Linked DNA regions of Homo sapiens: region 1 is linked to region 2. Evidence: fine-mapped expression QTL. A gene starts in region 2. The other region holds a variant in brackets. All regions are shown on one strand. Distances are between the middles of the regions. Region 1 overlaps DNAH10 (dynein axonemal heavy chain 10). Region 2 holds the start of DNAH10 (dynein axonemal heavy chain 10).

Region 1 (8,000 bases), 150 kb before region 2:
TAGATATACCCCCAAGAGAATTAAAAACACACATTCACACAAAAACCTGCACACAAATGTTCACAGGAGCATTGCCTTAATAGCAAAACAAGCGAAACAACCCAAATGCCCATCAGGTGACGGGTGGATAAACACAGTGCGGTCTGTCCATACATGGAATGTGACTCAGCCACAGGCAGGAATGAAGCGCTGACACACGCAGCAACACGGATGAACCGTGAGGTCACGGAGTGGAGTGAAAGATACCAGTCATGAAGTCACACACCGTATGATGCCATTGACATGAAGTGTTCAGAGCAAGTAAATCCTTACAGATGGAAGGCAGAGCGGTGACTGCCAGGGACTAGGAGTGGGGGGCCAGGGGGTGACTGCTAATGGGTATGGGATTTCATTTCGGGGCTGGTGGAAACGTTCCGGAGCCAGAGAGTAGTGATAGCTGCACAACTCTATGTATATGCTATGAATCACCACCGAATGGTATATTTTTAAAGGACGAATTTATGGTATGTAAATTGTGTCTCAATAAAGCTGCTATCTTAAAATTCAGTGCTTTAAACATTCCTCTTGTAACATGAATCGCCAGACTCAAGAATGCCATTCGGAGCTGGGCATGATGGCTCACACCTCGTAATCCCAGCACTTCAGGAGGCCAAGGTGGGTGGATCGTTTGAGCTCAGGAGTTCGAGACCAGCCTGGGCAACATAGTGAAACCCCATCTCTACAAAATATACAAAAACTTAGCTGGGTGTGGTGGCGTGCCTTTAGTCCCAGCTACTCTGGAGGCTGAGGTAGGAGGATCACCTGAGCCTGGGAGGTGGAGGTTGCAGTGAGCCGTGATCGCACCACTGCATTCCAGCCTGGGTGATGGAGCAAGACCCTATCTCAAAAAAAAAAGAAAAAGAAAGAAAGAAAGAAAAAAGAAAAAATGCTATTTGGTAACTTTCCATTTTCACAGATCACGTTTCCTTAAAGCCACGTCTGGCACACCAAACTACACTAACATGTCCTCCTCTGTGGGGAGAGCTCACCTGTGCAGCCGTGGTTATAGATGCTGAAGGTCAGCGTGTCCATGATGTTCCTCAGGCGTTTCATGAGGATGGAATCAGGCAGCGACTTCTTCAGTGACAGCCTGAAGACCTCTAAGAAGGCAATCAGGGAGTACTGGTACATGGAGTTCACCAGGGCCATCTCAGACAGGACGAAGAACAGGATGGCCCCCCTCCTGGCTGCTGGCCGGTAGCCATCCCGCAGCCTGTCGATGTCCAAGGCTGTCTTCTCCGCCAGCTTGAGTTTCTCTGAGACCTGAAGAAAAGCACAGGTGACCCTGGAAACAGGAAGACTGAGATGTGGGCAGAGGGCAGGAGGGGCAGGGGGACAGCAGAGAGGTATGTACAATGCTTCAGGGCTTTGAAAGTATCCAGGGACTGCAGGGGAGCGAGGGCACCCACCCTCTTGTAGGAAGGGGTGAATATTTGTGGCTGACGCCCCTGCACCCATGGCCCCTTCCCCTAGTAACACTGCTTGTAAGTCTCCGGTACTGCCCTCTCCCTTTTCTTCCCATATGGGGTTCCACCCCGACTCCAGGAGATGTGACCCAGGGCCAGCTAACCTGAGCCTAGCATCCCCAAGCTCCCAGGGCTGCTTTGGGGTAGAAACGTGACCTAAGTGACTCTCAGGACCTTCACGGTAGGAACAGGAAGATTCTCACTTACCCCTTTGGGTTTGGACCCGAGAGGACGTGAGGCCAGACCAGTCTTATGACCATGTGGGGAGCTGGCAGAGAATGACGCCAACCCAGTAGAAGGCCCAGCCCAGAAATGGACAGAAACCAGGTCCTCCTGGTATTTTTGAAGTCCTGGATCCAGCCCCACCTGAGGCCATCTCTGAACTTTTCTGCTTTCTCAGCTGATAACTTCCCTTTTGACTTAAGCCAGGCAGGGCTGGATTTTCTATCACTCTCGATTTAAAGAGACTGACCTGATGCCCAAGGGTCCCTGGGAACACCTTTAGGGCTCCCCTCCCCACAGCACATCCCAATAGAGGTGGGTTTTTAGCCCTGAGATCACAGAGCCCCATTTTCTCATTGAGCAGACAGAGAAATGGACGCTCCAACGGCGCATGCAGGCCCCGCCTGACTCACGGCCTCTTCCACTGTGGTTGCTACCTCTGTTGCCTTGGATTTGGTCTCCTCCAGGGTGTGCACCAGGTCCACATTGTCCAGCATGTTCCCCGTGGACGTGGCCAGCTCCCGAAGGAGGGAATCTTCCAGGTCCTTGAGCAGGTTCTTGTTCTCGCTGGTCTCCTGGATGAGGTGCTCCCGCTGCTCCTCCAGCTCCCGCCTCTCGTAAGCCACCAGCACGCTCAGCAGCTGGTCCTCCAGGCCCTTCAGCGTGACTGTGGGGGACAGTGAGAGGCCCTCACCACCTGCGGCCCCCAACAACAGTCTCTCCCGCTGCCCTGCTGTGACGGGACAAGCTTAGCGCGGGTCTCAGCCAGCAGGCCAGAGGCACGAGGATTCACTGCCCACCAAAGTCACTCTAGAGCAGCAAGGTGGCAGGCAGGAGCAAAACAGCGATGCTGTGGTGCAGAGTGGCAGATAAAAAGGAAAAAACACACTGAAATAAAACCCAGGCTTCCACGGACTGGGGTGCCATAGTTTAAAGTATACCCAGACTGGGCGCAGTGGCTCATGCCTGTAATCCCAGCACTTTGGGAGGCAGAGGCAGGAGGATCACTTGAGCCCAGAAGTTTGAGCCCAGACAACACAGACAAACCCCATCTGTACAAAAAAAGAAAAAGAAAAAAGAAAAGAAAGTACATCCAAATCAAATTAGCCTATTTAAGCAGGAGCATGACAGCCCTAGAGAATGTAAGAGATAACATCCCATTTCTATCAGAATTCAACTGAGAGGAAGAAAAAAAAAATTCAACATCACAACATGTATTTTAAATACACGAATATAGAGTAACTTCCTGCCCCCACAGTCAGAGGTCCCATCCCACCCCATGTGTGAACACATAAGCCCACGGCCCCGTCTCAGCGTGACTCATGACAGGTGACTCATGGCCTCACACCTTCTAAGTGGTACCTAATTGGTAAGAGCTGACTAGTCCAGATGTGCCTATGAGAGAATGATCTGGGGTCACTGAGTGAAATGATGTCCCATGAATGCCTTGATCTGAGGTTGCGGTCTCCCTCATAACCATCTGAATTAGCAGTGGAGGTTCTACACATTCTTACCAGTGTAATTGATCACCATAGCTTTCCCAAACACGGATGGGGAATATCTGGGATTGGCCAGCTTGGTGTTCAGGTACAGTCTGAAATTTGAATCATAGTCCACTTCCTTGTCTCCCAGGATAATAAACTGCCGTCCTTGGGAGACTTTTATATTTTTTTCTAAGACGTTGTCAATCACAGGATCGATGTATTCATCAACATCGCGGAACAGGAAAGGGGTCCCGTACTTTATGGACATCTCTAGCTGCTTGAGGAAGTCAGGGTCATTAAAGGAAGCGACCTGGAAGAGAAGGGAGGCAGATGCTGAAAGCCCACGTTTAACTGTGGCCCTGCCAAATATAAGGGGAGAATGGCTTGGAAGTGGGAAGTGGATGGGCCAGGAACTTGGAGGGGGCCAGAGGTGAAAAGAAGAGAGAAGCAAGGGGTATAACGCATATACACCATGAGGTCCAGGCTCAGGGCAGGATCTTGCTCAAACAGGGTAGAGAGGAAAGGAAGGGGATTCCTCAGCCCCTCTCCCGTAAGCTAGAACCCCTCCTCTTTAAGAGAGAGGGTAGATGTTGGAATTGGACTAGGGGTAGGCTGACAATTTCAGTGCTCCCTGGCAGGCTGAGGGAAGAGGGAGTCTAGAAAAGTTCCTGCCCTCATAGTATTTGCTCCCTGATAGCTCCATGTGCATTTTGGAGGCAGACTGTTCCCCTGACCTTGGAGTACAAATGGGCTTCCTCTAACAGCAGGCAAATACCTGAGATCAAGGACCAGAAAAAAATGAGGAAAAGCTAAATTGAAAATAATTAATTTGTTCATTAGCTCAGCAAAAAGTGATTGGGCCGCCCCGGCAATTCCATTCCTAGGTATCGCCCCAAGAGAACTGAAAACACATGGCCACATAGAAACGTGTGCACCAACATTCACAGCGGCATTCTTCAAACAGCCAAAAAGTAGGACAACCCAACTGTCCCTCAGCAAATGGATGGATGAACACAATGTGTCTGTTCATACACCGGAATATCATTCAGCCCAAGGAAGGAATGACGCCCTGATGCACTACAGCAAGGACGGACCTTGAAAACATCAGGCTGAGTGAAAGGCGCCAGACACAAAAGGCCACACAGCGTCTGAGTCCATTCCTAAGAAATGTCCAGAGGAGGCACATTCACAGA[C/T]GGAAAGCAGATGAGTGGCTGCCAGGGGCTCGGGGAGGGAGAAACGGAAGGACTGGAGGGGTGATGGCTAAAGGATGTAGCATTTCTTCCAGGGATAATAAAAATGTTCTAAGACTGACTCTGGTGATTGGTATACAACTCTGTAAATATACTAAAACTCAAACTGAATTGTATGTTTTCAGTGGGGGAAAGGTGTGGTATGTGAATTACATCTCAATCAAGCCATTACTCTCCCCTCTCCTCCCCTGCATCCCCATCCCCCACCTCAGCTCCAAAAAATAGTGACTGAGCACCCAGACCACGAACCCCGTACTGGACAGAGGAACACGAAGCTAAGGTTGCTCACAGCCTGCGAGGGGAGAGGCAGAGTTCATGGCGGTTTGAGCTGCCCTGGCAGACCCACGGGGTGGAGGCGGAGGCGGAGCCGGGGGAGGGCTCCGCATGGGGGTCAGGATGGAAGCATTTCAGCCCAGCCTCGCTGAGGCTAGGGACTGCCACGTACAGGAGGCGGGAGGGGCATTCTCCAGAGAACAGGAATAGGGGGCAGAAGACGCCCTGGGAGGAGCCACCATACCCGCAGATTGTTCTTCTCCTCTTTTCTCTTGATCCAGTTGAGGGCCTGCTGCTGGGGGTCGATACACAGAGGGAAGCGGCTGGCCCGGGTGGTGAGGATGCCATTCTGAACGGAGAGCTCATCGGGGGGAAGGCCCTGGGATCCCCATCTGGAAGAAACAGCCATTGGGAAATGAATTTTTCTCACCAATTTGTGAGCCAAGGGCTAAGGGTGGTAGGACTGGCCTTCCAGAACAATCTACCCATCCCCAGGCCACACAAGCCTCCTCAGAGGCCAGGGAGAAGGGCTCCGTGCTGGGTTTGCAGCTTGCCCGGCCACTTCCATGCAGTCGAGCCAACTGTGGTCCTGGTGATGCCCCCCAGGCCATTGCCTCCCCCCAGGGTGACACCCACGTAGACCCCCTGTGCTAAGGTGTCCCCTCCCTCCTGCTGGCTCAGGGTGCCACACACCTGCTGATCTCAACATCATCCGTGAGCAGGCTTTCCAGCCGGAAAGGCTGGCTCAGGGGGATCTCCCGCTCCAGGATGTCATTTTGCCAAATCCGATTGACCATCTCGTCACGGAACTCCCAGGTGAAGGCTCCCTCGTAGCTGAGGAAAGCCGCGCAGAGCAGGCAGTCCCCCAGCAGCTTCACGCGCCGGTGCATCAGCTCATCCAGGTCGTTCAGCCACCTGGCACGGGAGGAGAGGGAGGCTGCCGTGAGTTTACCTTCTGGCCACAACCAAAAGGAACATTCCAGAAGAACCAGCTTGATACCTTGCTAACAGGGCTAGCCAGATGGAAACATGTTTTGAGATATTCTTTCCTTGTGAGGAACAGAGACCAACAGCTTATCTTGCAACTTCCCACCCTAGTGAACCTGGTATTTGGAGCCAGCATCAAGCAGGGGGCTCAGTAAAGGCCTGTGGTCTTTATTAAGCAGTAATCACATTGCGTGGATCATATTAAGTAGTAATCACGTTGTTTCTGAAGCCTTAATCAAAGACATATAAATCAGCCCGGCAGAGCTAACAAGTTCTGGCCTCACTCAATGACAGAATTCCACCCAAGATAAAAGAAAGCGTCTGTTTCATTTGTCCTCTTTCAGTAAATGCCCCAAGACTTAGGTTTAAGAAATACTGAAAATTGTTTCCCACACGCAAACAACATTTTTCAGTGTTTTCTACACCACACTTACAGATGCTAGATTCAAAATTGTTGCCCTATTTGGTGAATAAGCTGTGGCCAAGCGGTCTTGCCCATAAATATCAAACAGCCCCATCACTTAAGACTGAAGCCCAGGATTGAACAAGCCACTGGGACCCTTAGAAGGCATCTGTGCGGTGACAGAGATGGGCTTCTCCCACAGACTCTTCTAGAAAAGACCCAGGGGTTAGAGGTCACCAAGAAGTGAACACTTCCCAAACCTAGAGCACCCTGCTAAATGGTATGGATTCCCCCGTCTCCACAGCTGCACTGCCTCCTTGACCCTTAGTAATTAATAAATAACACTCAGTGCCTAATACAAACAAGAGCCTATAAAATAGCCATTAGCTGCCATAAACATGATAATAGGAACATAAGACCTGGTCACATGGTTTTCACATAAAAACACAACGTGAGATAAAGAATCAACATGGCGAGAAACTCTGTGGGTGACGTCCGTTTACAAACCGCAACAGGTGGGCTCGTGAGCAGCGCTAACCTGATGTTTTCTGACCCCAGACCCGAGATGAGTTTGTCTGCGGCAATCAGCCGCCTCTCCATGATCTCGGCTTCTTCCTGCAGCTTCTGCTTTTCCAGTATGGCGGCCTCATATTTGGCACCCAATGTTTCCAGCTCTTTCTGAATTGCTGCCAACTCATTCTGGATCCTTTCCAGTTCCCGTTTAGTGAGGTAAAAATTCCGCTCCAGCCTGGCCACCTAAGTGAAGACAATTTGCAAAAAGATGGGGAAAAGGACCGTGGTGGGGCCGCGATCCCATGGCCTCAAACCAGGCCACATGTCTAAACTGCTCTAATGGTGTCTGTGCTTTTCAGAGCCTCTATATGCTATGTTGAGACACGTGGCTTCTTAGTTTCTTCTTCGACTGTTTGCTGCAAAAACTCCATGTCCCATTAGAAGACACAGCACCCAAGTTATCAAATGGTTTTACTTTCATGTACTGAGGTCTCCGTAAGATGACACTGTGGTTCTAAGTCAAAAACTCAGAAGAATATACCATAGACAGTAACAGTATTTCTATTGGTTCCAAGCTTTCTGAATAATACAATTCCGAGCTATAGCGCAAGGTCACAATATGACTCAAAATGATCAAATTAACCTTATTCTCTTTGTATTTTGTGATCTTCATGTGACTTTGGCCCCGCTGCTCTCAACTGCGGTAGGTTTTGTCCCCCAGGGGACGTTTGGTACTGTCTGGAGACATTTCTGGATGTCACAGCTTGGAGGGAGGGTGCTGCTGGCATCCAGTGGGGTGAGGCTGAAGATGCTGCTAAACATCCTATAGTGCCCAGGACAGACCCCCCCAGGACAGACCCCCCCCCAGGACAGACCCCCCAGGACAGACCCCCCAGGACAGACCCCCTGCGGGAAAGACCCCCCCCGGGACAGACCCCCCCCAGGACAGACCCCCCCGGGACAGACCCCCCAGGACAGACCCCCCCAGGACAGACTCCCCCAGGACAGACCCACCCAGGACAGACCCCCCAGGACAGACCCCCCCCAGGACAGACCCCCCCGGGACAGACCCCCCCCAGGACAGACCGCCCCAGGACAGACTCCCCCAGGACAGACCCACCCAGGACAGACCCACCCAGGACAGACCCCCCCCAGGACAGACCCCCCAGGACAGACCCCCCCCAGGACAGACCCCCCCCAGGACAGACCCCCCCGGGACAGACCCCCCCAGGACAGACCCCCCCCCAGGACAGACCCCCCAGGACAGACCCCCCCCCAGGACAGACCCCCCCAGGACAGACCCCCCCAGGACAGACCCCCCAGGACAGACCCCCCCAGGACAGACCCCCCCCCAGGACAGACC
Region 2 (8,461 bases):
ACAGATGCATTTCATTTTTATAAATCTATCCTCCAGAAATACACAAAGTATGCAAGGATAGACAGACATTATTCCATTGTTTGTAGAATGAATACTCTGAAAAGCTAAGTGTCCATTAATTAGAGAATGGATGAGTAGAATGTGGTACATCTATGTATTTAAATCTATCAAGTTAGGTAGAACTATAGGAATTGGCATGAAAAAATAACCAAAACATGTGGTGGGGGGAGAAGTCACAAAATAATATGTATATATAGTATGATATTTATAGTTTTAGGAACTCTATATATCCATATATTATCATTATAGAGAGAAATATAGACTGTAGATGGAACAAGGATAGACAGATATAGATGACAAGCAGGTAGGTAGGTAGGTAGGTAGGTAGGCTGATTAATTGATCTCAACAGCCCTGACCTTATGCCTAGACAGACAGAGATAGACAGACAGACAGATAGATAAACAGACATGTAGGTAGGTACATAGATAGATAGATGTATAGATAGAGAGAGATAGATGTATAGGTAGGTAGGTAGACAGGAGATAGATGTATAGATAGATAGACAGACAGATGTATAGATAGATAGATGTATAGATAGATGTATAGACAGATAAACAGATGTGTAGATAGATGTATAGACAGAGATAGATGTATAGGTAGGTAGATAAATTGGTAGATAATTGATAGATGGATAGATAGATGATAGGTAAGTGATAGGTAGACAGACACACAGATTGGTCAGTTGGCACGTAGATAATAGAGGGATAGATGTATAGGTAATTAGGTAGGTAGACAGGAGACAGACAGATAGATGTATAGGTAGGTAGGTAGATAGATATATAGATAGAGATAGATGTATAGGTAGGTAGGTAGATAGATGTATAGACAGAGATAGATAGATGTATAGGTAGGTAGGTAGATTGGTAGATAATTGATAGATGGATAGATGATAGGTGAATGATAGGTAGATAGACACACAGATTGGTCAGTTGGTAGATAGATAATAGAGAGAGATAGATGTATAGGTAGGTAGGTAGACAGGAGATAGATAAATAGATGTATAGATAGAGGTATGTATAGATAGATAGATAGATAGATAGATAGATAGATAAAGTATAGATAGATGCATAGGAAGGTAGGGAGACAGATCAGTCGGTTGGTAGGTGATTGGCTGATTGATTGACTGATAATTTGACAAAAGAGCCAACCAGAAACACACCAAACTAATAATAGTGGTTACCCCTAGGAATAAGAGCAGGACTGGGGCTTAAGGGATGGAGAAGCGTTGCTTTTTCTTTTTATATGTAATTCTATGTTCTGTGAATTCATAAGAGAACATGTGTTATGGCAGTATTTGTGTAATTTCTTTAAATGTAAGGAAGTTACTAAATGATATGTACAGTACGATTCCGTTTTGTTTTTTCCAGAAGGAACACATGTACCTACTGCATCAGTATCTTGGGTATCTGCTGCCCGGAAGGACACCTCGCCTTTATTACCACCACCTGCCCCAGTATCTGCTTGTCTCCATTCCTATCATTTTTAACCAGGAGCAGAGAGAAATCTTGACCGGGGAAGGGGGGCAGAAAGAGGAAAAAAAAGGAAACAAAGGACACGCTGGGCTCTCTGCAGGTCCTCTGAACAGACCAGAACCACCTGTCCCCCAAAAATAATCTAGGGAAACTGTTCAAGGGTTATATGAGCCTGTAGGTTTAACAAGCAGAGAGTGAGTGACAACGTGTGGAGTTGGGGATGAGGTCTCTTCTCCCCACCTGGCCAGAACCCCCAACACCCGACGCCATCTGGCACCTCCAGAATCGGCAGCTTTGAGAGTTTCCAGAGACAGCATCTTCGGCGAGGAATCCATCAGCTTTTCACCATGAGGTGATAGTGGAGAAGGGACGGGAATGGAAGGGAAGACCAGGGACAGAGACAGCCCAGAAACGGGTCAGGGGGCGGGGTGGGGGAGTTCTGAGCTCCCTTTGGAGGGTCCAGGAATTAACCAGGGGGACCCTCTGAGGTGAGACTGAACTCTGCTTCCACACTGGATGACATTTGGGCTAAACACGTGCTAGTAAACACAGCAGACAACAGCCACCCCACCGTTAACAGAGGCCCTTGGAGGGCTTCTGCAAGAAATCCAAGTCACATCCATTGTTTTAGGGTCTTGTAATTTTTTTTTAATGTAAACGAAACCCGAGTTCCTGCAGTGGTGGTACATGTTAAACGGTCAATCCTGCGAGTGTGTTTTTGGTTTCCATAATTTCACTTGGTGCCAATGAAAGTGCCTACATCCGAGGTCCAGTTATAATCTAATGTTCAGGTCCAAAGGTCTGCCAGGGAGAAAAAAATAATAGGCTGGAAGGTTAAATTCCAAAACGTGATCACGTGGTCCTCTCTCCAGATGGCACTAGGGATTTGTTATTGTTGTTTATTTATGGTTTTGGATTTATGATGAAGGCGTTTTATTTTGTGCAAGCAAATAATGAATATTTAAAATAAATGAAGGTGGCCAAGCGCGATGGTTCACACCTGTAATCCCAGCACTTCGGGAGGCCGAGGTGGGCAGATCACTTTAGGTCAGGAGTTCAAGAGCAGCCCGGCCAACATGGTGAAACCCTGTCTCTACTAGAAATACAAAAATCAGCCAGGCATGGTGATGGGTGCCTGTAATCCCAGCTACTTGGGAGGCTGAGTCAGGAGAATTGCTTGAACCAGGGAGGTGGAGGTTGCAGTGAGCCGAGATTGCACCACTGCACTCCAGCCTTGGCGACAGAGCTAGACTCTGTCTCAAAAAAAAAAAAAAGAAGTGGCCAGGTGCCAGATGGCTAACACCTGGAATCCCAGCACTTTGGGAGGCCGAGGCGGGAGGATCACTTGACCTCAGTAGTTTGAGACCACCCTGGGCAACATGGTGAAACCTGTCTCTACCAAAAATATAAAAATTAGCCAGGCATGGTGACGCATACCTGTAGTCCCAGCTACTCAGGAAGCTGAGGTGGGAGAATCACTTGAGCCCTGGAGGCAGAGGTTGCAGTGAGTCAAGATCGCACCACTGCACTCCAGCCTGGGTGACAAAGTGAGACCCTATCTCAAAAAAAAAAAAAAAAAAGTTAAAAAATAGAATACAATAAATGAATCTGCCTGGTACCTTTAAAAAAAAAATCAAAGGTCTGCCGGCCCTGCCACCCGAACCCAGTGAGAGGCCCTGCAAGGGATCCCCAAGTCCTTAAGGGGCTGGAAAAGTAGCCCAGGAGACTGGACAGCCAGGCAGGAGGTCCCGGTAGCTGTGCTCCAGCTGGTGCTCCTGCGAGGAGGCGGCTTTCGAGGTCCCAGTCTCCTTCTAGCTGTTTCTGAAGCGAGTTGTCCTGCCTCCTCCTCTCACCTGTGCTGGCCCCTCCCTGCCCTCTCAGTGTCCCTGGCCTATCAGAGAGTAGGTGGGGCTGGGGATCCGCCTCCACAGAGGGTTCTGGGACCCTGGTCACTGTCTTTTTGTATTTGCGATGCTAATTTGTTCAACATAAACATTTAAAGTCTACTGTAGTTTTTAAACTTTGTCCTAGCCTTATTTTACTTTTTAGGATATAAGGAGCCTCCAGAAGTAGAAAGGGGTGCTCTTCGGACCCTCCGTGAGAGGCTGCGACCGTCAAGGAGAGTGACAGTGACCTGGGTCCCTGCCACACCTGGGCATGGCTCTACCCAGCCGTTCGGATTATTGCACAGTGGATCTTGACGCCCCGTGGGCCTTGGGCAGGTTACTTAACCCCCTCCGTGCCAGTTTGCTCATCTGTAAAATAGGGATGAGGATACACCCGCCTCGTAGGGTTAAGGAGTTGATACAAGCGTTGGAACCGCACCTGGCACGGGGTGCGGGCTAAGTCAGTGTTTGCTGTGATTTTTCAATCAAGGCCTGACTTTCAAGTGGGCTGTGGGCCCAGGAGGGCAGGGACGGCTGTGATTGCTGGGTTCGCCCGGGGCCTGCACGTGGCGGGCGGCAGCGTTTGTGGACAGCACCTGAGGCCGGGGCCGGACGATGGGCAGGCTCTAGCAGCCCCGGCGCCCGCCGGAGAGGCCGGGACGGGCAGGAGGGAAGCCCGGGGAAGGGAGCGGCGCGTCGAGGCTCACCAATCTCCACCTCCACCTCCTCCGGCACCATAGTGCGGTAGATGAAGAGCGCCGAGGGCCCCTCCTCCTCGCTCGCCTGGTTGAGGAAGTGCAAGATGAGGTCCTCGCCCTGGCCGTCGTCGCGGTTGAGCAGGTCCTCGAAAAGCTGGGGGTCGGTGATGCCGAAAGCCGCATACACGCGGTCGCGCATCCACAGCACCCGCAGGTCGTCCATGGCGCCGCGCAGTGCAGAGGGAGCCGGGCGCAGGGCGGGCGTCCGTGGCAACGGCGGCCCTAGCAATGGGCGCCCCGGAAACGGCCGCAGCTCGCCCCGCCGACGGCGCCGGCGCTGGGGGCTGCAAGCTCGGCAGTGCCCCGCGCCCGGCCCCTCGATCCCGAACCCGCGAGCCGCAGCCCACGCCCCGGCCCCGGGATCTCGGAGGCGCGCACCAGGCCCCCGGGCCGCCGAGGTAGGCTGGTTGCTCCCTGGCCCCGGCAGCGCGCACGCCCCTGGATGCGGAGCGGGACCCTCGCCGCCAGGAGCCGCCCTCGGGCCGCTGCAGCCGAGGGTGCGACCCCACCCCACGCCGACCGGTTTGCAAGCAGCCCGCCCACCTTGCAGATGAAGCTGGGGCTAGAGAGTTGGCGAGACGAAGGTCACAGCACCTCGGCGGTGGCAGAGGCGGGATTAGAGGCCAGACGAGGAGGAAATAAGCCGAGAAAGCACGAGTTCCTCATGGCCTACAAAATCAGGGAAGGAGCAGAGTTCTTTAGCTTTCTTGCCAAACTAGAGCATAATAAAGCAAAACACCCACGTTTAAAAATATAGATATATTTATTTGTCATTAGCAAAAGGAAGTTAAATACTGATAGAAGATGCAAATTTGTCCTTTCATGCATTTGTGGAGCAAAGTACTAACTTGTTCACTGTCATTTCCCCTCACAAGGAGTTGAGCCCCTAGATGACTCAGGCTAACCCTAAGAACCTACCTAGCCTTCTTAGATATTCCCATCAAAGAACAGGTGGAGTGTACTAAGTATTTCTGAAAATTCTAAACCAAATCAGCAAAAATGGCCTGACTGTGGGAAGACTGTTCGTTCAAACTGCCTTATTCCCATCATCTTGATTTGACAGCTTCATAATAACCTTCCTGGATATATTCCCTGTGGCACGCAAGCAAACCCGGCTTTACGTTTTTAATAGAGGAATTTATTGTTTTAAATGCGGACTGTAGAATAGGTGTAGAAGTTGTTTTTCTTTTCCAAAATGTATCAGGCTCTAAAACGTCTGAATATGTAATTCATGGACATCGTAAGGCTGACCTATGCTACAGGTATTCTGTGCCTTATTAAACAACTGCAGAGGGCCAGGCGCGGTGGCTCACGCCTGTAATCCCAGCACTTTGGGAGGCCAAGGTGGGTAGATCACCTGAGGTCAGGAGTTTGAGACCAGCCTGGCCAACATGGTGAAACCCTGTCTCTACTAAAAATACAAAAATTAGCCGGGCACTGTGGCAGGCGCCTGTAATCCCAGCTACTCGGGAGGCTAGGGCAGGAGAATTGCTTAAACCCAGGAGGCAGAGGTTGCAGTGAGCCGAGACTGCACCACTGCACTTCAGCCTAGGTGACAGAGTGAGACACTGTCTCAAAAAAAATAAAAAAATTTTTAAATAAACAACTGCTGAGGGGATGCTGACACCAGAATGTTGTTATAAAATATCCATTCCAGAAACAGAGCAGCATTCAGCGAAAGAGGAGTTCCAAGTCCTTTCGCTGCTGGAAAGTCCGCAGGGCTCACCCAGATCCTATCAGACAGAACACCCTTTGCACTCCTTAACTGACCACGGCAATTACAGTCTCCAGCCCAGCAGGTTGAATCAAAGTCTAGTTTACTGAAGAAATCCCTTGGGTTTTAAGATTCTGTTAACACATGGTAATAAACATCTAAATAAAAACTGAGAAATGTCGTGTCGTGACATTTATCTTTAGGAAAATAAACATATTCAGTATCATCCACACAACTTGCCATCTGTGCTCTGGATCTCTGCTATCAAGGGAATGAAGTATGTTTTAAAAACTGGATACATAATAGGTTCTAGCAAAAGCCTTAACAAACAAAACTGAGCGATAACTCTGGTAACATGACACTGGAGCCCATCGCTTTATAGAGAAACAAATTCCCGTGGCCCCTATAAGACACTATTATCAAACTACATTTCCAGAGAGCGCTTTCCCAGAGTTAGGATTCTGAATTCGCTTTTCATATAATGACATTCTACATAAATACTACATAGATTTCAACAGAGAAATGACTGCATCCTCTGCTCTATGCTGAGAAGAGGTGTTAATTAGAAAGAGTTAAAAAAGTGGCCCCATGAGAATTACTAGTGGGGAGCAGTAAACAATTCCCGTGAATATCGTGTCCCTTATTTACCAATCAGCTAACAGTGCCCTGAAGTCTTGGGCTTCCTAGGGATGAAGTAGTTACCATTGTTTTTATGACAGACCCCTGGAGCAAAGTAACACAAATGTCCCCTTGTGGAAGCATCAGCTCTAGGTGAAAGCAACTCTGAGACCTGACCAGCACTGCTGGGATGTCATAGTCACCCAACACAAGTGCCCGACATGACACCTTTCTAGGGAAGCATAACTTTGAGAGCAGAATCATTTTCAAGCATTTCATCGGCATCATTTGATAATTTAATATGAGGGACAAAAAGCAGTAAGTCCAAACTGGCCTTGGGTAACATCTCATCAAGTAGCACACAGAATCTGTACTGTAATTGAAAGGGTTTAATTGTAAGTCACGGCTGTGTCAACGCTGTTCAGCTCATGCCTTGAAATCAGCTGCACAGCCACGTTAAACTCAGCACCTCCAGACTCTCAGCTTGTAACAGAAGTGCCAAGCTCTCTACCTCGAAACAGGATAGAGGAGGATGCGGGCAAATAGCCTTTTAACGTGTATCACTCACAATGTCAAGAAGGTGAAAAAAAGTCAGGTTTCTTTTTGAAAATAATTGTCTAAAATCAAACTAAAATATGAAAAATTAACATAATTTGCAAGAATATAGGTCAAAATGTTCAATAGGACTGACTCAAGTTCACAAAAAACCAAATGTCAAACAGATGAATTTAAACTAAAGATTATAAAACAATGGCTATTAAGAATTAGTTTTCAACTGATCTAAACAGTGTTTGAAAGTTTAAATTAACTCAATACTTTTATCAGAACTTTAGCTAGAAACAGTCTGAAAGTAAAAAAAGTATCATTAGACTGTTCTCAAGGATAAGTGCAATCTCTTCATGGTAAAATATCTTCATTTATATTTAGACTGTTCTCAAGGATAAGTGCAATCTCTTCATGGTAAAATATCTTCATTTATATTTTGTTACAAAAATATACAAAATACTACTTTTTACCTTTCCTTCACTCAGTATAAACCCTTCTGGTTCAGTGACATCAGCCAAGCTGTCACTAAATTCAAATCATGTCCGCATTATATCTTCTACAGTCACACTGGGTTTTAAGGCTCAGCATACAATTTATCTTCCAAACATACAATTATCATAACTGGTTTTATGTAAGGGTAACAGGATAAGAGTCTTTAAAAAAATATACAAGTGGGATAACCATTTGTTGTATGTCATTTTATCCCATTGTCCCCAATTACTAAAACAAGACAAAATTGTAAAAACAATCCTCTACTTGTAATTCTAGGTAGCACAGGATAAAAAATATTTGCATATTTTGGCCAGGCATGGTGGCTCACGCCTGTAATCCCAGCACTTAGGGAGGCCGAGGCAGGTGGATCACTTGAGGTCAGAAGTTCGAGACCAGCCTGGCCAACATGGTGAAACCCCATCTCTACAAAAATACAAAAAAATTAGCTGGTCACGGTGGCGCATGCCTGTAATCCCAGTTACTCGGGAGGCTGAGACAGGAGAATCACCTGAATCCAGGAGGCGGAAGTTGCAATGAGACACGATCGTGCCATTGCACTCCAGCCTACGTGACACAGCAAGACTTCATCTCAAAAAAAAAAAAAAAGTACATATTTTTAAATCCAGCAGAATAAATGTGAATGTTTTGATTACCCATCATTAAATTTTTTAAAAAACTATCCCTACTTCAGCTGTTGGAAAATATTATCTGGCAACTTCAGGTGACAGATTAACTCTGTTGTTTGTTTTAAATAAAGTTTAAAGGAAATAAGTATCTAATACCATTTTCAACTAGCCATGCAAAATTGGCTTCTCTCCCCAAATCCTGTATTTGAAAAAATAACTTTAACATAACGTTTGGCATTAACTTATATTTGCTCATCATAAAAAACCAAAAGAAATTTTTATATCTCA

Evidence for each region. PIP is the estimated chance that this variant, and not a neighbour inherited with it, causes the effect. A credible set is the group of variants that fine-mapping cannot tell apart.
Region 1: its variant is the best candidate, but not a certain one, in a credible set for the expression of DNAH10 in coronary artery (GTEx, PIP 0.87).

What each region holds. Positions count from the first base shown.
Region 1 is chr12:123,911,978-123,919,977 of GRCh38, reverse strand. DNAH10 (dynein axonemal heavy chain 10) reads right to left here. Exons shown (of 79, transcript NM_001372106.1): 60 at 6,663-6,880; 61 at 5,428-5,649; 62 at 4,979-5,126; 63 at 3,242-3,521; 64 at 2,165-2,394; 65 at 1,029-1,302. Among named protein-coding and RNA genes, the nearest start is that of DNAH10OS, 19 kb to the left of the region's middle. RefSeq lists enhancers at 998-2,197, 2,369-2,870. The variant C/T (reference allele first, on the strand shown) is at 4,405.
Region 2 is chr12:123,758,216-123,766,676 of GRCh38, reverse strand. DNAH10 (dynein axonemal heavy chain 10) reads right to left here and starts at 4,376. Exons shown (of 79, transcript NM_001372106.1): 1 at 4,127-4,376. The coding sequence starts at 4,340. It overlaps ATP6V0A2 (ATPase H+ transporting V0 subunit a2), which reads right to left. Exons shown (of 20, transcript NM_012463.4): 20 at 4,922-8,461. LOC105370044 (a long non-coding RNA gene) reads left to right here. Exons shown (of 5, transcript XR_945481.4): 5 at 1,429-1,509. RefSeq lists a silencer at 4,376-4,795.